2 separate regions of the Homo sapiens genome follow, and region 2 is linked to region 1. Evidence: fine-mapped expression QTL. Tissue or cell type: whole blood. Region 1 holds a variant in brackets; the other region holds the start of a gene. All regions are shown on one strand. Distances are from middle to middle. Region 1 overlaps LOC107984878 (a long non-coding RNA gene). Region 2 holds the start of NUDT7 (nudix hydrolase 7).

Region 1 (12,248 bases):
TAAGTTAAAGACCTTGAAATGAGATCATCCTAGATTTACGGTAATCCCTAAATCCAATGACTGGTGTCTTTATAAATAAAAAAAGAGGGAAATTTGAGACACACAGTTGCAAGAGACACAGGGAAGAAGCCATGTGAAGACAGAGGCAGAGATTAGAGTTATGTTGCCGCGAGCCAAGGAACACCAGGAGCCACCGGAAGCTGGAAGAGGAAAGGAAGGGTCCTCCCCACAGCCTTTGGAGGGAGGGTGATGCTGCCAACGCCTTGATTTCAGATTTCTGGCCTTCAGAACCGTGAGATAACAAATTTCGGTTGTTTTAAGCTACCAAGTTTGTGGCAAATTGTTAGGACAGCCCTAGGAAACTACACAGCCCCCTTCTGAAACATCTCTTCATTTTGAGAAATAGCTCTGCCCTCTGTCTTGGGATTACCATGGAAACAGGACATTGCTGACCTCCCAGCATAAACTCAGTTAATCAGATTTAGTCCCTCAGTAATTCCCTTGGGATTAGTACCAAGCAACAGCAGAGTCTGTCTGCCTGCCCTCCGGAAGAGAGCATATGTGGGTGTTTGTGTTCCACCATTTGCCCTGGGAAGCAGAGAAAGCTTGTCTGCAACAAGAGAGGAGAACAAAGTCAATGACCAGAATGGAAGAGCAATGAAAGTCAGTCGTGTGTTGTGAAGGCATTAGAATCCCTGGATGTTTGTTCTTGAGACCCGGATGTTTCCATGGTTTCCATGAAATGCTCCCACCCTTCGTAGTTAAATTCCCTAACGTGCTTGAGCAAGCTTAGAAAGAGTTCTATAACTTTCACTGGAAAATGTCCTAACATATCACAAACACACGTCTTTATATCCTTCTCTTTTCTCTTTTCTCACACCCTTTTACACTATGGGGACCTTAGGTTCTATTCTTTCTTAACTTAGAATGGACCTATCCACATGTAGAGTCTTCTGGAAGTGCAATATGGTATGGTAGGAAAGACTGAAGACAGAAAACCCAGTCTCCTCTCATCACTAGCTATATGACCCATTGGACAGATTAAGCCCATATGCTAATTGCAAGAAAAATTAGGAAAATAGGCATCTGACATTTTCTCCTCCACTGTGAGAGGCAGACCCGGCTAACAAGGAAGAGGATGATGGGAAACTCATTGTCTGCCACATCATGTTTATTATATTTTATTTTATAAATAGAAACAAGGTCCTGCTATGTTGCAAAGGCTGGTCTCAAACTCCTGGCTCCAAGCAATCCTCCCACCTGAGCCTTCCAAAGTGCTAGTATTACAAGCATAAGCCGCCATGCCTGGCCTGCCTGCCACATATAGAAGTAAAACTGCTCTGACAGTTAAGTATGTGAGGGGGACAGATTACTGCTTGCTTGGCTCTTCTCACCTCTCCCCCACCACAGTTGCCCCCATGACTCCTCTATAGACTGCCTTTAGGTTCTATAAGGAACAAAGAGGGACAATGGAGACCCAAGTCAACTCACTGATGTCTTTGATAACATATGTGTCCTTTGCACCTCTTCTTTGTTGGTCCAGTAAACAGAAGCTAAAGCAAATGTATCAAAGTCTGAATCAACATTCCTGGAGAAGCCTTTGGGTCTGGGCTAGCCCATGAGATAACTGTGAAGCTGTCACAAGACACCCCTGGCTACAGAGCACCTGTAATGTGGCTAGTCCAAATTGAGATGCTGTAGGAGTCAAATACACACTGGATTTCAAAGACTTACTATTGGCTACATGGTGAAATGATAATGTTTTAGAGATGTTGGGTTAAATATAGGGTGAAAATTAATTTATCCTGTTTCTTAGTACTTTTTTGAATGTGGCTACTAGAAAATTTAAATTTACATACATGGCTTACAGTATATTTCTACTGGACAGAGTGGCTCTAGATGACTCATGTGTGGCCAGGACACTAGGACACTGGAGAAGTAATGATCACCCCATGTACAGATACAGTCTGTGTCCTACCCACATCCTTAGGACCCTACCATTGCAGTGAGCTCCAGATCACTTCCAACAGCCAACATTTGCATCTGTGTTCCTGCAGGCTTTTTCCAAAGCCACAGCAGGCCAGCTGGAAGTGACAGGGAATTAATGTCCCCTACATTAACCCTCAACCAATGACTGATGGGATTTTGCATATCAGTAGCTCAGGTTCTTTGCCCCTTGGGTGGGATAATTCTGAGACAGGTGTTCTGTACTTGCTCCCAAACTGAACTAAACTCTGGGTGCCCGCTGTGGTGGCAAGTTTCACACTTCTTTTCATTGGCTGCCTTCCCTTCTTTGTCTCATTTCTCCACTCCCATAACAATGTGCCCTGTAGATTCCAAATAAATAACTTGAATCTTGTCTTTAGGTTTCTAGGTAAACCAAATTAAGACACTCCTATATCTAATCCGTCGCCAAATCGTACTGAATTTATCTTCTGAATATCTATCAAATCTAGTTCTTCTCATCTCTACCGACATCAACTTAGTTAAAGCTGTCATAAACGTCTGAAAACTTTTGCATCTATCTGGTAACTATTACCCTGCACCATCTCTCTTCTATAGCCAGAGTTATTTTTCAATATAAATATCATCATATTTTCTTGAGGCACTCAAATGGCTTCCCATTGTTTTTTATGAAAAAGATGGATGGCTCTTACAAGGCCGTGTCCTGGCTCCTGTCTACCTATCTGGTTATGTGTAGTACCATGAGCCCCCTCCCTGCTCATCCACTCCTACAGCACTGGCCTGTAGAGGCTCAGTTTCAGTCCATGGGTGCCTCAGAACTCTTGCACAAGCTGATCCCTCAATCATTTCCCTTTGCCTGGTTACCTCATACTTATTGTTGAAGGATGCCTTCTCTGACACCTTAGCTAGGTTAGTTCTCCTTGTTATAAGCTCTCTTGGTGCCATGTACCTCTACTTCATAACTCCTGTCATAGTTACAATATGATATCCCCTTGATTCTTTGATTGATGTCCCCTCATTCTCTGGACTTCAACTTCCATAATGGCACAGTCATGTCTCAATTTTGGTCCATACACAAGAGTACTCTTAGCACTTGGCACAACACTGGGTAAAGAGTAGGTGCTCAATGGATATTTGTTAAATAAAAGAGTACAACTAAATGAGAAGTAGCTATTTCTACTCAAATAGCTAATTCAGTGGGCTAAGGAAAATTCAGTCTCTTCCCAACAGACTGCTTGACAAAGGTCAACCTAAGGTGGTCTAGCATTGTTGTAAATCACCCCCTCCTGCATTTACTGTATAAGGTATATAAAGTGCTCTACCAGAGTGGACATGAGTGAGTGGCTCCTATCTTTAACCAGTTTTTGCCTTGTAACTTAGTTATTTCCATACCTAGCTGTCTTGATGTACTATGAACTACCAGAGGAGCAGACTTAGCTCTTCTTTACCCTTCTAGCCTCAATGCTAGCCATATATTTAGGACCCATGCCCCTTCATATCTACAAAAACTTGCCTTAAATCCCCATTGTAATTCCAGTGGAAAGCTCGATATTCTCCCCAAGATTTATTCAAATCCTTCAGAGAGTACCTTTCTTCTAATCACCTTAGGTTCAATTTCCAGCTTCAGTGAATGTTAGTTCTGTATTCTGCATCTTGAGGTCTTTTTCCTTAGTGCCAACCCAAATCCAGGACAGAGACTGCTTCTCCTTGTTTTTCCTAAAGTAACTTGTATGTAAATCATTGAGTGGCTTTAATTGGAGACACAGGGATATCAGCCAGGTAAACTTTGATTGCAACATAAGAGAGCCAAACTTAAATTTGAATATTATGTTTTTCTTGTTCTTTAAAAGTCCTGTCCATTCTACCAAGTTGGGTATCAGGCTGATGCTGTATTCCTCCACATGCTTGTTCTTCCTTTTTGCTTTTCTCTTTGCTCCCACCACCAAAATGACATTCATTTCCTTTTCAGAGGATGGTGTCTATTTGGCTCCATGCATCTCATGCCCACTAGGACCCACCTTCCACATTCAATAAGCTCAGCAGTGAATTTTCCTAAATAAGAAGAGTTTATTTGTGGTACATTGGTTTCAATTACACTTTTTTCTCACTCCACTGGATATTTTTTAATGAAATGACAAGGGTCAAATGAGGACAGCCTTCTAGCAAAAGCCATGGGCACTGAATTGAAAAAAACATGCTGTGCAAAACACATTTGGTGGGTGAATTCATTGATCCAGTAACGAGCTTGATGAGCCTGAGCCTGAGTTGCAGTGAGGGGGGTGAATGATAAGATCAGGAGTGGGACTTGGAGGAATAAGCTGCATTTAGGAAATGAGCAGAAGAAAGGTAGAGCTAAGGCCATGAGGGCCAGAAGAGACGACTGGGGAGCAAAGGACGTAGGTGAGGGAGGAGGAAATGAAGAATTTATACTGAAGGAACAACAAGGATGACTTTTAGGAGGAGGGTGGTGAATGGAAGAACCCTGAGACAAAGGAAGACATCACCAGCCAGGGGAGGTAGGCATTGCCCCTAGTACTGTCCATAAATATGCTCTGTAACCTTGCAGACAGAAATCACAATCTTGCTGAACCTCAGGTTCCTTACGTATAAAGCGGATTGGAACTAGTTAATCTCTAATTCCTTTTCCTTTTGAAATCTCCAATTCTGGGTTTTCCCCAGCCTCATTTAAGCATATCCAGGTAATGAAGCCATTCTGCTTAATGTTTTACAAAGGAAAAATCTGACTGAGGAAAAGAAAAGGATCACTTTTTGTCTACTGTTCGAAGCTAGCAGCATGCATAGAGTTTATTATGTGAAAATGCCATTTGGGGAGGTTAATTAAAAATTCTGACATTCAGATCAGGGATTTGGGTCAGGAATGTACAAGTCCAGGGCTCTGGGTAGAATTAGACAGGCATCTAAACGTTGAACCTTATTAAGTATATAGTTAGGCCTTAGGAGGGGGACATTTGGAAGCTAATATTCCAAACCCAAGCCTAGTTGGCTTTGTGCATTTTGTTTGAATTATGACATATTTAATAGGATTTACCTGCAGAGCCTGTGCTTAACAATCTGTTTCCTTGGCAATGCAATCCTCAAACGGGCAAAGGCCATATGGAAAACATGGGTTATTTGGTAATTTAATAAGTGAGATGAGAGGAATAGTATTTAATTCAACGTACATATTTTTATCCCCTCTATGTTCAATAAGAAAAAAAGAGATCAGCATTAAGTACATAGCATGTACTTAATAAGTGGAAAGTACAATTATTATTATCAGAAACAATTTTTGTACTATGCTTTATATTATAATAGGTGCCCAAACATG[T/C]TATGCTATTTGTCCAAAAACACTCACCAGACAAAATAATTCTTCTTAGTAGTCCCAGAGGCGTTATGCTTCAGTTTGTTTTTCTCCCTCTTTGCTCCCTGCACTTCATCAGCAAGTTTGTTCATTCTGCTTCTGATTCACACCCTAAATGCATCCTGTCCCCCTTTCCACCTGTAGCACCTGGTCCCAGACTCATCATCCCCCTCAACCCCTTACCTCCCCTGCACCTATTCTTGCTCCTTATATGCCCTTCTTCACCCAACATCCAGAGTGATCTTTTGAAGTCATGAATAAAGTCATGCCGTTTCTTGGCCTAAAACCTTCTAGTGTCGTCCAACTGTGACTGACTTTATTTTTTTCTTTCTTTATTTTTCATTTCTGGTAGAGACAAGGTCTTGCTATGTTGCCCAGGCTGCCCTCAAATGATCCTCTCTCATCTGGCTCCCAAAGTGCTGGGATTGCAGGCGTGGGTTAGTGCGCTTACCCACCTGTGCCTGTAATAAAGTTCAACCTTTGTCTTTGGTTGACAAAACTGGCACATTGTGGACTCCGCCTACTTCTGACCCTTCTTGATCTTGGCCACTGAACTTCCTTCAGCTTGTGCTTCTTTCTCCTGTTGGAAACGCTATGCTTGCCCCCACCATAGTGCTCTTGCACTAGATGCCCCTCTCCCAGCAATTGTCTTCACCCTGGTTTTTGCATGGATGGCACTTGTTTTATCATCAGTTCTCACTACACCTGTCGTTTCCTGGAAGAGTCTAACGCTGATGTCATTCTCTCTCATGCACCCATATTTTACTTCCATATCTGGTATTTTTTGGGTACATACTTGGTTTTTTTTCCTATCTCTCACACTAGAACACAAGCTCTGTGAGTGTGGGGACTTTCAATTATATTTTATTTTCCATTAGGAATTCAATAAATAAGTACTGAGTGGATGAATGAATTAATTTGGCTGAAAACTAGATGGTCAAGGTCATTTTATTGCCAAGAAGTAGGTCAATACAAGAATGAAATCACAGTAATGATTAGGTAAAAATAAAATTCCCAAGCACTGCTACTTTAATTTGTATTATTTTTTAATACTGATGATTTGTTTCATCATGGGCTAATTTTAGTACTATTCATGCATATTTAATTATGTTTTAGAATTATTCATTTTTTTCTATTTTAAAGATTGTCTAATTTATTCTCAGCTAATTAGTCCAGCTTTATATTTGTATACATTAGGAAAAATTGAAGGCAACCTAGACACCAAACAAGTTGTAAATGGTTTAAATAAATTATGGTAAATTATAGAAAGATATATATGATTTCATTTTTGTCAGTTTTATCCATACTTCTCTATTTGTAAGGATATTCATAGAGGTGTTAAAAATTGTCTTCTCAGGGAGGAGGTTGGGATTATAATTATCACTTACATTCTTTGTTTTTTGGTAGTTTTTATTTTTGGGGGGCTTTTTTCCTAATTTTTCTACAATGTGTACACACTGCTTTAATAATCCATAAAAGTAATTTTAAAAACAAAGTTTTGAAAGGATATAAAATATAAGGACTTGGAATGTCTGAGTATGAGGAGTTTTTTTTTTTAACTTAAAAACACAAAATCCCCTCAAAACAAAAAACCTAATCCCTAAATTAAAAAAGATAGAAAGCAAAAATTCAAATTCTGAAACTAGAATTTTCAGGGACTGAATTCACCTAAGGTGATCAGAGGGAGGCCATCGTTGGCACATCTTTGGAGTACATCAGTTTAGCTGCCCAGGCCACACTTTAGTAGAATATTCATGGCTGCGAGACCATCTTCCTTCCCTTTCGTTCTCCCTCCAAGTCCATTGCTTGCGTGCGCCATAACATCACCCCTCTAACCCCAGTTTACTATATTCACACCTGCAGTAAAAAATGGCCACATATAAAACACTCTGAGAAGTTTGAGAAAGTTTTCTAAATGTAAGGAAGATATGTGAGGCTGTGGCTGCTCCCTCTCTTGGGTATCTATTTTCTTTAACCGATTCACATGGGGGCTGAGCCATGTACCAGGAAGAACATTGCAACTTGCCAGCATTGGAGTCCAGCCATGCGCAGGCATGTTGGAGCTTTGTAGGGTATCCCGCTATAAACAAGATGCCAGAAGCACAAGTCCCCTTGGGTAAAATCAACCTGAAAGGAATAAAGCCTGGGATAACAAGCTGAGTCTGGGCAGAAGAACCTGAGACTGAAAGGGAAATCATTATATAAGATAGACTGCGGTGGCTGGTATTTCTTGTACTGCTTTAGCAGTTCCTATGTGCAGCCTCAGGGGAGAAAACAGAGATCTTCATACAGATAAACGTAGGAAGCCTCTGTAGGGCTCTGAGGTTCTAAACACGTGCTTGTATTAAACAATTTTGATGTATCTCCCCAGACCATCCCCTATGACTTGCTTATCAAGACAGGAAAAAAATCGTTCATCATTGTGCAAAATTTCAAGTCCACTAAACGATCACAAGCATCCTGACCTGAAAATATGGATTTAAATTACAGAAAAATATGAGAAATTATTTGGGAAAATATTATAAATAAGAAATAGTCTGAGCCATCATATTCAGAAGACATGTGTCTCTCATTCTGCAGATTTTCAGTACAACACTAAGAGTGCGTCGTTTCATGGGACTTGTCGATTTTGAAAACCTTCATTCTCTGCCCACATTGAGTAGGCAACTATTTCTCCATGGCTTCCTCTTCCACACCCACTTCTACTAGAAACAGTTGGGTCTAAAAGGACCCAAAGAACAAATGAAATGGACGATTACATATATTCATAGAGTTCTGTCACTTGGCTTCTTGTTTACTTGTCCTTATAATCCTATGTGCCAGACTAGAATGGCAAGCTCTGTTGTACAGTGAAAGATTTGGTGAATTTCAATGCTTGCCCAAGAACACAAGGCTACTTAAGTGAGGATTGCTATTACAGAACCTATATTCCAGCCCCACTAATGTTACATTTCCCATGAAAGACCAAAAGAAGAGAAATCAGATGTGTTAAGGGCTTGGTGGTAGCTGTGTTTTTCATCTATACAGCATGTTTTCATATTGCCTTTGGCTATTGATCATCAGTGAATTTCCAAGTTATGTGTGTGGATAACATGATTTGTTAAGCATGTCTGAACTGGATCTCTGTCTCTTGCAACCAAAGGAACCCCAATATCAAATACATTTACAGCAGTGGAGAAATATAATGCAATTTATCCATTGTGCCCTGAGATTTCCAGGCCATACTAAGTTCAGAAGACCCCTATGAGTGACATTTATTTAAAAAAAAAAAAAAAGGCCGGGCGCGTGGCTCATGCCTGTAATCCCAGCACTTTGGGAGGCCGAGGCGGGTGGATCACAAGGTCAGGAGATCCAGACAATCCTGGCTAACACGGCGAAACCCTGTCTCTACTAAAAATACAAAAAATTAGCCAGGCGTGGTGGCAGGCACCGGTAGTCCCAGCTACTCGGGAGGCTGAGACAGGAGAATGGCGTGAACCCTGGAGTCAGAGCTTGCAGTGAGCCGAGATTGCACCATTGCACTCCAGAGCCTGGGCAACAGAGCAAGACTCCTCAAAAAAAAAAAAAAGAAAAGAAAAGAAAAGAAAACAACAACAACAACAAAACTAAGCAGATGATAGAATAGAAATCGACTGCTGAAGAATTCTATCATTCCCTATCACTACTTGAGGCAATCCGACAAAATTCATTAATTTTAGCTTCCAGTTAATAATAACACATCAGGAGAGAAGCTCACTAATGAACTTTTTCATTTGGAACATGAGGCGATCGATGTTTGTAGGGCATGTAGCACTCTTAAATTGACACTTATATTCAGCTAGTAGTGGGAAAATAAAGTTGTGTTTCTTGGACTAAACTCATCAGATAAATTCTCTTGGCTGTAAGTATTTAGACCTCAGGGTTAGCTAAAACTAAGCAATCAGATTATCTTGAGATACTCACATTTTTCAGATAATTGTTCCCATATAAAATTTCCCTCGTCCTCCTCTGCAGTTGATCTTGGATGAGCTAATGAGAAATGAACCATGCAATATGTTATTAATTTATTGGGTTATCCTCCATTACCCTAAAGTTGATCAATAAAAATTAAATCATTAAGGGGCCAAAGTATTTTTAGAAACAATACCCAAAACACCTGGATTATAGAATTCTGTTCACAAGTTTAAAGTCCAAAGGAAAGAATGCATCCCACCCCTACCAGCACTTCCATAAAAACAATCCTCCAGCTGGGCGCGGTGGCTCACGCCTGTAATCCCAGCACTTTGGGTGGCCAATGCGGGCAGATCACAAGGTCAGGAGATCGAGACCATCCTGGCTAACATGGTGAAACCCCATCTCTACTAAAAATACAAAAAATTAGCCGGGCGTGGTGGCAGGTGCCTGTAGTCCCAGCTACCCGGGAGGCTGAGGCAGGAGAATGGCAAGAACCCAGGAGTTGGAGGTTGCAGTGACCCGAGACCGCACCACTGCACTCCAGCCTGGGCAACAGAGCGAGACTGTGTCTCAAAAAAAAAAAAAAAAAAAAAAAGATTAAAACTTGCTACCCAAAGTTTACTTTTCCTTTCTCCTCCTAACCTCTGATGATCTTCAATAATTTAGAAAAAATGCAAAGATTTCTCTTTATCTTCTATGCCATAAAACTATAACCCAAACAATACCAAGAAAAAGCTTGCTAATATAGGGCTTGTTCATTCAGAAGCTGCAGGAACTCTGTGGCAAACTCGTATGTCAGGTCACTTTGTTCCATCTGGGACCATAAGTCCACTAACTCATAAAGAACAATAGCAGACACTGTGATTCTAAGAGAATTGGTCACTTTCATCACAGCATAGAATGACCGAAGCCTTGTGTAGATTCGTTCCATTCCTCACCGCCACTCAGCATCAGTGTAACCATTCTCAGGCAGCAGAAGAAGAGACCTGCCAAGGCTGCATAGCTGGCGATGGATAAAGGATGTGGCTCCCTTTGTGGCTGATGTTTGGCTCTTGATACCATTGCTGTCCCTCTGTAGTTATAGATCTGTATCTAGTCTCTGGATCTAGATCTAGTCCTGGATTTGGAGCTAGTCTCTGGATCTGAATCTAGTCCTAGTTCTGGATCTAGTCTCTGGATCTGGATCTAGTCTTGCTTCTAGATCTAGTCCTGGCTCTGGATCTAGTCCTGGTTCTGGATCTAGTCTCTGGATCTAGATCTAGTCCTGGATTTCGATCTAGTCCTGGTTCTCAGTCTAGTCCTGGTTCTGAATCTAGTGCTGGATCTGGACCTAGTCCTGGTTCTGGATCTAGTCCTGGTCTGGATCTAGTCTCTGGATCCAAATCTAGTCTCTGGATCTGGATCTAGTCCCCATTCTGGATCTAGTCCCCGTTCTGGATCCAGTCCTGGATTTGGATCTAGTCCTGGCATTGGATCTAGTCTCTGGTTTTGGATCTAGTCCTGGATCTGGAACTAGTCTTAATTTCTCCTCCTATTTTTGCCTTTTCCTTGCTCCTTGGATTTGCTGACTGCCCTTAGCTTCTCTGATCTGACCCTGTGGGGTCTCTTACAGGGCTGATTCATACTCATGCACCTTCCTCTACATCCTCTCTACCACCAACAGGGAGGCAAGGCCCTTCCTTCTCCACCCTCTCAGCCCTCTTGTCTGCGCAGGGCTCACTCTGCCTTCTGAGCGTTTGGGCTGTCACTTTCCCTAAGAAGATGCCCTGATAAAAACTCTGGTTCCTTTTCAGCCTAGGTTTAGCAAGTCCAATTTCTGTCCCTGGTAATATGAGCATGTTTCATTGGAGGATGAAAATCTCCATTTAGCTGGGATCACTAATCTTTCTGCAAAGCCCCATAGCACATGTATATTATCCATGATTTCGAAAAGGTAGTAAAGTTAAAAAAAAAAAAAAAAGTAACCCACATATGTTGGAGTTACACAATTCTAGTCCCATGTGGGTGTGGCCAAAGCCATTAATCCTCTAGGCCTCCATGTCCTTATCTGTCAAACAAGCATTAGGATGCCTACTCTGCAGGGTTGCTGGGAATAATGGACATAATAAAAGTGTGAGGCCTCTGGACACCTGACCAGGAGGGGCACTGAATCATTGGTGGGATGAACATAGGTCCATCCTGGGCACTTCACTCATGCCCATCTGATTTGTGTCCTTAAAACTCTGTGCACACTGAAAATCAACAAAGAAAACAGTAGAGTTAAACTACACACTCCATCTAGTAGGCCTAACTGATATTTACAGAACATTTTACTCAAATGCTGCAGAATACACGTTCTTTTCACCTGTACATGGAACATTCTCTAGAATAGACCATATCTTAGGCCACAAAACAAGTGTGTACAAATTAAAAAAAAAAAAAAACAGAAATTATATCAAGAATCACAGCTGCCTCTCCAAAACTCTTTGTTTTGATCTGTCTCATCTACATTTGGCCATTGCTATTTTATTGCTACTCAAAGTGATGTCCCTGGACAAGTAGCAACGTCCTCACCCGGGAGCTTGCAAGGAAATGTGGAGCTTCAGATTCTTCCCTGGACCTAGTGACTCAGCATCTGACTTTCACCAGATCCCCAGTGATTCCTGTGCATACTGAAGTTCGAGAAGCACTGCTCTATTTCACACTTCCTCTATAATTACCATCTGTCATTCCTGTCCTATTATATCTGTTATCTGATGTATTAGGCTCCTATTGCTGCTGTAACAGATTTCTGCAAACTTAGCAGCTTAAAACAATACAAATGTATTCTCTTGAACTTCTGGCAGCCAGAAATCTGAAATCAGTTTCTTGGGCTGAACCCAAAGTGTTCGCAGGACCGTGCTCCCTCCGGAGGCTCTGGGGGAGAATTTGTTCCTCTGCCTTCCAGCTTCTAGCACTTCATTTCTTGGCTCATGCCTCCTTTCCCCATCTCCAAGCCAGCAGTATAGCA
Region 2 (12,248 bases), 32 kb before region 1:
TATATCTTTTATATTACTGCTAATATCACAGTACTGCTATCACACTTGGTGTACATCCTGTGATGTTACTCCTAATATTTTAGATTTTACTGCTGATATCCCAATGGGTGTACACCCTGGTTGTACATCCACTGTGATATTATTTATAATATCTTTGATATAATGGCTAATATCACAGTGGGTGTACACCCTGTGATATTATTCATAATAACATGGAAGCCGTGTGTAAACATTGGATATTATAAATATCAGAGTGATATTTCATTAATATCACAGTGTGTAAACATTGTGTTAACACAGTATGTTATAAATATGAGAGCAATATTTCATTAATATCATGGTTTGTAATCACTGAGTGTAAATACTGGATATGATAAGTATTAGAGTGATATTTCATTAATATAACAGTGTGTAAACAGTGTGTGCAAACACTGATATTATAAATATCGGAGCAATATTTTATAAATATCACAGTGTGTAAACACTGGATATTTTAAATATGAGGGGGATATTTCATTACTATTACAGTGTGTAAACACTTGATGTTATAAATATCAGAGTCATATTTCATTATTATCAACGTGTTTAAACACTGTGTAAACACTGATATTACAAATATCAGAGTGACATTTCTTTAATATCACAGTGTGTAAACACTGAATAATATAAATATCAGAGCGATATTTCATTAATATCAATAGTGTGTAAACACTGAATATTATAAATATCACAGTGATATTTCATTAATATCATAGTGTGTAAACACTGTGTCTAAACACTGGATATGATAAATATTAGAGCAAGATGTCATTAATATCCCAGTGTGTAAACACTGTGTCTAAACACTGAATATTATAAATATCAGAGTGACATTTCATTAATATTTTAGTGTATAAGCACTGGATGTTATAATTATCAGAGCGATATTTCATAAACATCACAGTGTGTACACCACTGCCATTATAAATATCATGGCGATATTTTATTACTATCACAGTGTGTAAACACTGGATATTATAAATATCAGAGCCATATTTCATTACTATCACAGTGTGTGAATACTGAATATTATACATCTCAGAGCAATATTTCATTAATATCACAGTGTGTAAACACTGGATATTATAAATATCAGAGCCATATTTCATTAATATCACAGTGTGTAAACACCGGATATTATAAATATCAGAGTGATATTTCACTCACTGAATATTATAAACATCATCAGAGAGATATTTCATTAATATCACTGTGTGTAAACCCTGAATATTATAAATACCATCAGAGAAATATTTCATTAATATCACAGTGTGTAAACAGTGGATATTGTAAATATCATCACACTGATATTTCATATATATCACTGTGTGTAAACACTGGATATTACAAGTATCATCAGAGTGATATTTTGTTAATATCATAGTGTGTCAATATTGGATATTACAAGTATCATCAGAGCAATATTTCATGAATACTACAGTGTGTAAACACTGGATATTACAATTATTATCATCAGAGCGATATTTCATTAATATCACAGCGTGTAAACCCTGGATATTACATGTATCCTCATCAGAGCAATATTCATTAATATCACAGTTTGTAAACCCTGGATACAATAAATATCAGAGCGAAATTTCCCTAAAATCACAGTGTGTACATCGTGGATACTATAAATATCAGTGCAAAATTTCCCTAGTATCACAATGTGTAAATCCTGGATACTCTAAATATGAGACCGAAAATTCCCTGGTATCACAGTGTGTAAACCCTGGATTTTATAAATATCAGAGCTAAATTTCCCCAGTATCACAGTGTGTAAACCCTGGACACTATAAATATCAGAACAAAATTTTCCTAGTATCACAGTGTGTAAACCCTGGATACTATAAATATCAGAACAAAATTTTCCTTGTATCACAGTGTGTAAGCCCTGGATACTATAAATATCAGAGTCAAATTTTCCTAGTATCACAGTGTGTAAACACTTTGTGTAAACACTGGAAATTATATGTATCAGACTGATATTTCACTAGTGTCACAGTGTGTAAACCCTGTGTGTAAACTCTGGATATTATAAATATCAGAGCGATATTTCACTAATGTTACAGTGTGTAAACGCTGTATATTATAAATATCAGGGTGAAATTTCACTAATGTCTCAGTATGTAAATACTGGATATTAGTAATATCAGAGAGAAATTTTACTAATGTCGCAGTGTATAAACACTAGATATTACAAATATCAGAGCGAAATTTCCCTTGTATCACAGTGTGTAAAAAGTGGACACTATAAATATCAGACCGAAATTTCCCTAGTATTACTGTGTGTAAACACTGGATACTATAAGTATCAGAGCGGTATTTCACTAGTATCACAGCGTGTAAACACTTTGTGTAAACACTGGATATTATACATATCAGAATGATATTTCACCAGTATTACAGTGTGTAACCACTGGAGATGATAATTATCAGGGTGATATTTCACTAGTATCACAGTGTGTAACCACCGGATATTATAAATATTAGAGCGATATTTCTTTAATATCACAGCATGTAAGCCCTGTGTGTAAACACTGGATATTATAAATATCACAGCGATATTTCGCTGATATCACAGTGTGTAACCACTGGGTATTGTAAATATCACAGTGATGTTTCACCAATATCACAACGTGTTACTAGTGGATATTGGAAATATCACAGCGATGTTTTGCCAATATCACAGTGTGTAACCACTGGAAATTGTAAATATCACAGTGATATTTCGCCGATATCACAGTGTGTAACCAGTGTGTAATCACAGGATATTGTAAATATCAGAGCAATATTTTGCTGGTATCACAGTGTGTAAACTTGATACTGTAAATATCACAGCAATATTTCACTGATATTACAGTGTGTAAACACTGGATATTGTAAATATCACAGCGATATTTCACTGATATCACAGTGTATAAACTCTGGATGTTGTCAATATCACAGTGATATTTCACTAATATCAGAGTGTGTAAACACAGGATATCGTAAATATCACAGCAATATTTCAGTGATGTCACAGTGTGTAAGCACTGTGTGTAAACACTGGATATTATGAATATCACAGCGATATTTCATTAGTATCACGGTGTGTAAACACTGGATATTATAAATATAACACCGATATTTCCTTAATATCATGATGTGTAAACACTAGATATTATAAATATTGCATCGATATTTCATTAATATCATGGCGTGTAAACACTATGTGTGAACACTGGATATTAGAAATATCACAACATTTCATTAATATCACGGTGTGCAAACACTGTGTGTAAACAATGGATATTATGAAAATCACAGCGATATTTCATTAATGTCACAGTGTGTAAGCACTGTGTGCAAACACTGGATATTATGAATATCATAGCGATATTTTATTAATATCGCAGTGTGTAAGCACTGTGTGGAAACACTGGATATTATGAATATCACAGCGATATTTCGTTAATGTCACAGTGCGTAAGCACTGTGTGTAAATACTGGATATTATGAATATCACAGTGATATTTCATTAACGTAACAGCGTGTAAGCACTGTGTAAACACTGGATATTATGAGTGTCACAGTGATATTTCATTAATTTCACACGGGATATTATAAAAATCACAACGATATTTAACATCATAGTGTGTAAACACTTTGTGTAAACATCGGGTATTATAAATATCACAGCGATGTTTCATCGGTATCACAGTTTGTAAACCTTGGATATTATAAACATCACAGCGATATTTCATTTATATCACGATGTGTAAACACTGGATACTATAAATATCACAGCGATGTTTGCTTAATATCACGGTGTGTAAACACTGTATATTACAAATATCACAGCCATATTTTATTAATATCACGGTGTGTACACACTGGATATTATAAATATCATATTGATATTTCATTGAGGTCATGGTGTGTAAACACTGGATGTTGTAAATATCTGTGATATTTCATTGATGTTATGGTGCATCAACACTTGATATTACAAATATCACAGAGACATTTCATTGATATCACAGTGTGGAAACACTGGGTATTATAAATATCACAGCGATATTATATTAATATCACGGTGTGTAAACATTGTATATTACAAATATCAGCCATATTTTATTAATATCACAGTGTGTAAACACTGGATATTATAAATATCACATCGATATTTCATTGATGTCACGGTGTGTAAACACTGGATGTTGTAAATATCACAGCGATATTTCATTAATATTTCATTTCATTAATAATTTCACAAACTGCCCCACTGACCTAGGGCCAGCCACAATATTACTTTCATGGGCCCTAGCTACTTTGTTTTTGTGCACCCCTTCTTCCATAAAATAATTTTAAAGTGAATATTTTATGACTGAATTCATAAAATGACTATCATCCAAGCTGGATTCATTATTATATATTGCTTTTATTACATACCTTTTCTTCTTCTAATTTAAAAAGAAATTACAATTAAAACATTTTCACAGGTCCCTAAAATTACTGTGTGTGTCCTGTGCCTGTAAGGGAGAAGTCAGCCCTACACTGACCCCTGGATTCTCAGCTCGCACCAGGCTCCCTCACACACACTGTTCTCCAGCCCCTTTCTGCTGTCTTTGCACAAACTTTGCCCTCTTCCTTGAACACTCTCCCTTGCCTTTTTCCTCATTTATGTCCTCTATCCCGCACAGAGCATCAGAATCCCCTTACAGCACAGATCACTGGGCCTGACACCTGGCTTCTGATTCAGCAGTTGTGACATGGGCCCCAAAGTCCACCTTTTCTTTTCTTTTCTTTTCTTTTCGTCTTTTTTCTTTTCTTTTCTTTTCTCTTTTCTTTCTTTCCTTTCTTTCTTTCTTGGTTTTTGTTGTTGTTGTTGTTGTTGTTTTGTTTTGTTTTGTTTTTGAGACAGAGTTTCGCTTTTTTTTGCCCAGGCTGGAGTGCAATGGCGCGATCTCGGCCCACTGCAAACTCCGCCTCCCAGGTTCAAGCGATTCTCCTGCCTCAGCCTCCTAGTAGCTGAGATTACAGGCGCCTGCCACTGGCTAATTTTTGTTTTTTTAGTAGAGATGGGGTTTCACCATGTTGGCCAAGCTGGTCTCAAACTCCTGACCTTAGGTGATCCACCCGACTTGGCCTCCCAAAGTGCTGGGATTACAGGTGTGAGCCACAGCGCCTGGCCCAGAGTCCACATTTTTAACAGGACCAAAGTGATCCTGATTCTGCTGGTCTGAGGACCACACTTTGAGAACTACTGCTTTCAAGATGAGCTGCACTTCTATTTCCTCTACCAAGCCTCTTCTGTCTCCTAATTGGGTCACATTTCTCCTTCACACGCTCTAGAAGGACCAAAGGCCACTGCTTTATCAGTGTGATTTTTTTTTTTTTTTTTTTTTGCATTAAAAACTTCTTATCTTCTTCTTCTTATTTTTGAGACGGTCTACCTCTGTCAGGCTGGAGTGCAGTGGTGCTATCACGGCTCACTGCAGCTTCGACCTCCTGGGCTCAAGCGATCCTCCCACCTCAGCCTCTTGAGTAGCTGGGACCACAGGTGTGTGCCACCACGCCTGGCTAATTTTTTATTTTTATTTTGTAGAGATGGGGTTTCGCCATGTTGCCCAGGCTGGGCTCGAACTCCTGGATTCAAGTGATCCTCCCCTCTTGGCCTCCCAAAGTGTTGGAATTACAAGCATATGCCACTGCATCCAGCCCTGTGTGATTAATTTATGTTTCTACCATTTGACTGTGAGCTCCACGTGTCTTTTCGCTAGCTGTGGGATCTGCACCCAGTGCATACAGGTGGTCGGTGAACAGGTGCTGACAGCAGTTCCAAAAAGTTGAATGAATCACCTTAACCTTCCAGCAACAGCGAATGCGAGTGTAAAATATTATCACCTCACCAACACTGTATTTTTTTTTTTTTTAACTCTTCCAGCTCTAAATTCCACAACTCCTCCTATACCTCTTGCTTCCATAGAAGCCCAAGGAGCCCGGCAGAAACTGCTTTGAGCAACCAGGAACACCCGGCCCTAAGTCCCGCCCCGCGCCTCTCCCCACCTCAAGTCCCGCCTCTGGCTATAAGCCCCGCCCCGCCCCGATCCCGGCCTCCGATCCCAGATCTCGCACCGCCCCGCCCCCTGTCTCCGCCCCAGACACCACCCCGCCTCGTGCTCTAAGCCCCGCCCCTCTCTCTGGCTTTAGGCCGCTCCCAAGCCCAGAGCTGCTCTGCGCAAGCGCGACCGACCGAGCAGCTCCGAGGAGTCCGCCCGGAAACAAACATTCCCCAGGGCAATGTCACGACTTGGTCTTCCCGAGGAGCCAGTCAGGTAAAGGCTTTCCGGGCCCTGGCACCCCGAGCTTGGTCAGGCCCGGCCTTGATCGTAGCGGAGGCCACCGGGGCCTTTTGGCCGGGACTGATTTTGCAGCTCCCGCCAGTCCACCTGCGAGCGCCGGATGGGGGAGCACTCGCCTCCAGCAACCCGCAGGGTCCCCGAACCTTTGCACTGCTCTGGCCAGGAACAGAGCCGGCTTAAGCCAGTATGGTTTACATACACGCTGCTCCCCTTCCCAGCCGGCTTGGCTGTTCTGCAATCCGCGTCTCCAGAGTTGGACCCCAGGACCCCCGACAGTGGCACAGACCCGCAGCAGGCAGCCCCGGATTCAAGTCCCCCGGTGGCTACTTTCAGTTGTGACCTTGGGTCTGTCAGTTTCGTAAACTCTCTGAGCCTGGAGGTGACCCTGTGATCACTTGCCGGGCTGTTGTGAGGATAAAATGAGAAACGTCAAAATTGAGACCATGCTCAGAACGGGGTGGCTGCTACTGCTGTTGATACCTTGGTGATTATTCCAGCGGCCAGCCCCTAAAGTGGACAGATAACGTTTTTGCAGCCTTTTACTTTGGCTGGTTTGTCTGGTCAGTTCTGTGGTTTCCGGGTGGTTAAAAGCCACCAGCCCACAGTTTCCTTTTCTGGAGGCTGGCCTGCGTGCATCCAGATGCACTGTGCAATCCCTGTGCCAGCATTCACTGATTTTTTTCAGGCCATTTGGTCTTTGAAATACACTGCCGTTACCCAACCACATCTGGTGAGCACCCTGCCACCTAGAAAGAGGCAAAAAATAGCAAATACCTCCTGCAAACAACTGCTTATCTAATGATGGGGAGATTTATGACAGTGGTTACCATTCCCTGAGCACCAGCTGTGTGCCAGCCACAGTATATGAACTGCATCATTTAATCTTCTTAAATATCCTCAAGCCTGACACAAATGAAGATGAAACTCAGAGAAGTCATTTGTATACACTTTTTTTTTTTTTTTTTTGAGACAGAGTCTCACTCTGCCGCCCTGGCTACAGTGCAGTAGGCAATCTCGGCTCACTGCAGCCTCTGCCTCCTGGGTTCAAGCGATTCTCCTGCCTCAACCTTCTGAGTAGCTGGGATTACAGGCATGTGCCACGATGCCCGGCTAATTTTTGTATGTTTAGTAGAGGTGGGGTTTTACCATGTTGGCCAGGCTGGTCTCGAACTCCTGACTTCAAGTGATTCACCTTCCTCAGTCTCCCAAAGTGCCGGGATTACAGGCATGAGCCACTGTACCAGGCCTCCTATATACATTTGAAGCCAATTCTGGGTATCTTAAATAGCTGATTCTGCCCACTATGCAAAGCTGCCTTCCCACAGAAAAAGTAAAATCAGCTGTTCCTTTTCTAGGGCTGCCATAACAGAGTACCACACACTGGGTGTTTTAAAACAATAGAAATGGTCTCTCATGGCTATGAAGCCTGGAAGTCCAAAATCAAGGTATCGGCAGGGCCTCACTCCCTTAGAAGGCTCTGGGGGTGACCTTTCCTTGCCTCTTCCAGTTTCTGGTGGTTTCTGGCATTCCTTGGCTCACAGCAGCATCACTTCAACCTCTGCCGCCATCTTCACATGGTCTTCTTCCCTGTGTGCATCTCTCCATGTTTTTTCTTCTTTTATTTTATTTTATTTTTGAGTCAGGTCTCACTCTGTCACCCAGGCCGGAGTGCAGTGGTGCAATCATGGCTCACTGCAGCCTTGAACTCTGGGGCTCAAGTGATCCTCCCACTTCCGCCTTCCAAGTAGCTGGGAATACAGTTGCATGCCCCATGCCTAAGCTAATTTATGCTTTTTTTTTTTTTCTTTTGTAGAGACAGGGTCTTACCATGTTGACCAGGCTGGTTTCAAACTCCTGGGCCCAAGCAATTCTCCCGCCTCAACCTCCCAGTGTTGGGATTACAGGCGTGAGCCGCTGCACTGGGCTCGTTTCTGCTTCTTATCAGGACAACAGTCATTGGATTTAGAGCTCACTTTAATTACATCTGAAAAGATCCTATTTCTGAATAAAGTCACACTCTGAAGTTTGGGGTAGACATGAATTTCAGGGGTGAGGGGATACTGTTCAACCCACTATACAAACTAGCAGTAGAACACACCTGTCAAAAGGACCAAAACAAGTCCACATAGGAAGGGCACCATTTGCGGTTTTAAATCCAAATGCTTGCATATTATTGGGAAATTGTTCTCAGAATGTGTTCCCCTGTCCACAGCGTCAGTAACGCTGTCATGAGGGAGTTTGATACAAATGCTAATTCTCAGGCCCTACACCAGAGTTACTGAGTCACAGTCTGGGACTGAACCTCGCAGTCTATGTGACAGCCAGCGCTCCAGGTGATTCTGTTGCTGCTAAAGCTTGGGAACCACTATTATAAGCAGTTGAAGACATAAGAGTTTGAGAACATAAGGGCCAGCTTAACAGAAGGTAGTCTTCTAACCTTCTAACCTTAACAATGACTTTTTCATCAAACCTGTCTTCTCTGAATATAATTATGGGTTTCAAAATTCAACTGTTGCATTATTGAAAAAACATTTTACCATACTTTATGTTTCAAAGAGAACCTGTGTACTAAACTGTGTGCTTAGAAGGTTTTTTTGTCATTTTCATCTTGCGAACAACCACGCAATTTAGATAGTATCATTTCTGTCGTGTTATTGAAAAATACACAGAGAGTCAGAAATGGCAAACTCCTAAATACACAACAAAGCAGAAACAGAGGCAGGACTATAAGCTTTTTACCATAACTCTGCTTGCTAAAATGTCTGTCTGGTTTGTTTTTATTTTAGAAACAGTTTGCTAGATGATGCTAAGGCCCGCTTAAGAAAGTATGATATTGGAGGCAAATATTCTCACTTGCCATATAACAAATACTCCGTCCTTTTGCCATTGGTGGCTAAAGAAGGAAAACTCCATTTGTTGTTCACCGTCCGGTCAGAGAAGGTAGGTGGACAAAAAATTTCCTGCCCTTAAACCTCAGGACATCAGAAGACCTCACGAGATTTTGTCACTTGCACACACTTTGATGCCAAAATTCTCAAAAGGGCTTTCAAAATTGTGATGTCAGAGGCATACAACCACAAGCCACAGGATAACATGGTGTTTCTTGGAGAAGGTTTAACAAGAAAATGAAGGAATTTAGCTAGCAAGCAGTTTAAAACGCTTTCACACTAGGGTTACCTAACCTTGGTGCTATTGGCATTTGGGGCTGAATAATTCTTTGGTGTGGAGGCTGTCCTGTATAATGTGGTGTGTTTACCATCATCCTTGGCCTCTACCCACCAGATGCCAGTAGCACACACAAACACAAGCTCACACACACCTTTGTCCCTTTGTCCAGTATGCCAGTAGCACACACACCACAAATGTCTTCAGAATTGCCTACTATCCTGGCAGGATTGGGGGTGCCAAATTGCCCCCCACCAAGGGCCACTGTTTTAGACTATCCCACCCCCAGTATAATGTGAAAATACTAGAGCATAGAAGTTAACGGCCTAGGCTCTAAAGCTAGCTGTCCACGTTGAATCCAGGCTCTCTCCTTGCCAGCTGTGACTTTGGCCTCGTTACTTGCCCTCTCTGTACTTCAGTCTTTTCACTTGTAAAATGAGGACAAAATATTAGTAACTGCTTCATACAGCTGCTATGAACATTTCACAGGGTAACAAATGTAAAGCACCTATATAACCCAGGTACTTGGCAAGGAAGAATTCAGTAAGTTTTAGCTGTCATCGTTAGTGTCAAGTGACCTGTCAGACATGACCTGAAGTTTTAAGATAAATGATGTCACTTTACAGAAATAATGGGCTGGGAATGGAGTTTCTGGCTCACCCCTTGTATTGGTCCATTCTTGCATTGCTATAACGAAATACCTGAGGCTGGGTATGGTGGCTCAAGCATGTAATCCCAGCACTTTGAGAGGCCAAGGTGGGAGGATCACGAGGTCAGCAGTTCGAGACAAGCCTGACCAACATAGTGAAACCCCATCTCTACTAAAAATACAAAAGAATTAGCCAGGCATGGTGGCACACACCTGTAATCCCAGCTACTCAGGAGGCTGAGGCAGGAGAAACACTTGAAACCAGGAGGCGGAGGTTGCAGTGAGCCGAGATTGTGCCACTGCGCTCCAGCCTGAGGAACAGCGAGACTCCATCTCAAAAAAAGAAAGAAAGAAAGAAAAAGAAATATCTGAGTCTGGGTAATTTATAAAGAAAAGAGGTTTCATTGAGTCATGGTTCTGCAGGCTGTACAGGAAGCATGACACAGGCATCTGCTCAGTTTCTGGAAAGGCCTCAGGGAGTGTACCATCATGGCAGAGGGGGAGCAGGAGCAAGAGAGAGAGCAGGGAAATACCACACACTTTTAAATGGCCCCGGATCTCATGAGAACTCACTCACTATCATGGGGACAGTGCCAAGATGATGGTGCTAAACCATGCGTGAGAAATCTGCCCCTGTGATCCAGTCACCTCCAACCAGACCCCACCTCCAACACTGGGGACTCCAGTTCAACATGAGATTTGGGCAAGGACAAATATCGAAACTCTACCACCCCCACACCCGTGAGCACAGTCAGTTTCCCTTGCTGTGGGGAACTTCCAAGGAAAAGCTGGTGAAGCAGTCATTTTAAGCTTATCCAAGTACAAAAAGAAAATAAGCCATATTAACAGGCTTTTTAAGCAGAATAATGAAAAGTATTTTGTTTAAAAAAAAAATGCCAAGGAATCAGCTGGAGTTTTGTGGACGTGGAAGTAGACTTGTGTGGATTGTGTTCGGTCTGAGCCAGGCAGAAATGCCGTGAACTCAGGACATGATAGAAATCCAGGTTCCAGGGGGAAATACTTAAATGGAAACCAGGGGACCAGTGTCTGTTCCCACCTCTGCCAATAAGCACAGGAGAAGCACTTACATATATTTTTTAAAATTATCAGATATGGCCGTGTGCGGTGGCTCACGCCTGTAATCCCAGCACTTTGGGAGGCTGAGGTGGGCGGATCACCTGAGGTCAGGAGTTCGAGACCAGTCTGGCCAACATGGCGAAACCCTGTCTCTACTAAAAATACAAAAAATTAGCCAGGCGTGGTGGTGGGTGCCTGTAATCCCAGCTACTGGGGAGGCTGAGGCAGGGAGAATCACTTGAACCTGGGAGGTGGAGGTTGCATTGAGCCGAGATCGTGCCACTGCACTCCAGCCTGGGCAACAGAGCAAGACTCCATCTCAATAATGAATAAATAAATAAAAATAAATAAATAAATAAAAGAGAATTGTCTAACAAACAATAATATAGGAAATCTAGACAATACTACAAACTCAACCAACGGGGTCTCTAGTTTCTTTTGTTTCACCCAGAGCCACTTTTGCCTGTTGATTATTAAGGTCACTTTTTAAAAACTATTTAAATTTAATTCAATCTGATTGTAAACACTATCTGGCTGTAGGGGTGAGAAATTCCCTCTGGAGCTCTACTGGAGCTCTGCCCCTCACACAAGCAGGGCGCTGGTAGGAGATTTCCCCCCAGTGGATGGGGAAAGCAAGGCAAGAAGTGGGTTAACCCTTCTCAAATGTGCAATCTCCCACTAGCTCTGGAACCTCGAACAAGTTTTTCTTTTTTTTCAGAAGGATTCTCGCTCTGTCGCCCAGGCTGGAGTGCAGTGGCGTGATCTCAGCTCACTGCAACCTCCGCCTCTTGGGTTCAAGCAATTCTCCCACCTCAGCCTCCCAATTAGCTGGGATTACAGGTGCACGCCACCACGCCTGGCTAATTTTTGTATTTTTAGTAGAGAGGGAGTTTCACCATGTTGGTTGGCCAGGCTGATCTTGACCTCCTGATCTCAGGTGATCTGCCCATCTTGGCCTCCCAAAGTGCTGA

Evidence for each region.
Region 2: it holds the start of NUDT7, and the variant in region 1 is fine-mapped to the expression of NUDT7 in whole blood (TOPMed, PIP above 0.99).

Annotation. Positions count from the first base shown.
Region 1 is chr16:77,748,119-77,760,366 of GRCh38, forward strand. LOC107984878 (a long non-coding RNA gene) reads right to left here. Exons shown (of 6, transcript XR_002957866.2): 5 at 9,269-9,334. Among named protein-coding and RNA genes, the nearest start is that of NUDT7, 32 kb to the left of the region's middle. The variant T/C (reference allele first, on the strand shown) is at 5,294.
Region 2 is chr16:77,716,259-77,728,506 of GRCh38, forward strand. NUDT7 (nudix hydrolase 7) reads left to right here and starts at 6,256. Exons shown (of 4, transcript NM_001105663.3): 1 at 6,256-6,359; 2 at 9,173-9,326. The coding sequence starts at 6,325. RefSeq lists an enhancer at 6,094-6,388 and a silencer at 6,102-6,231.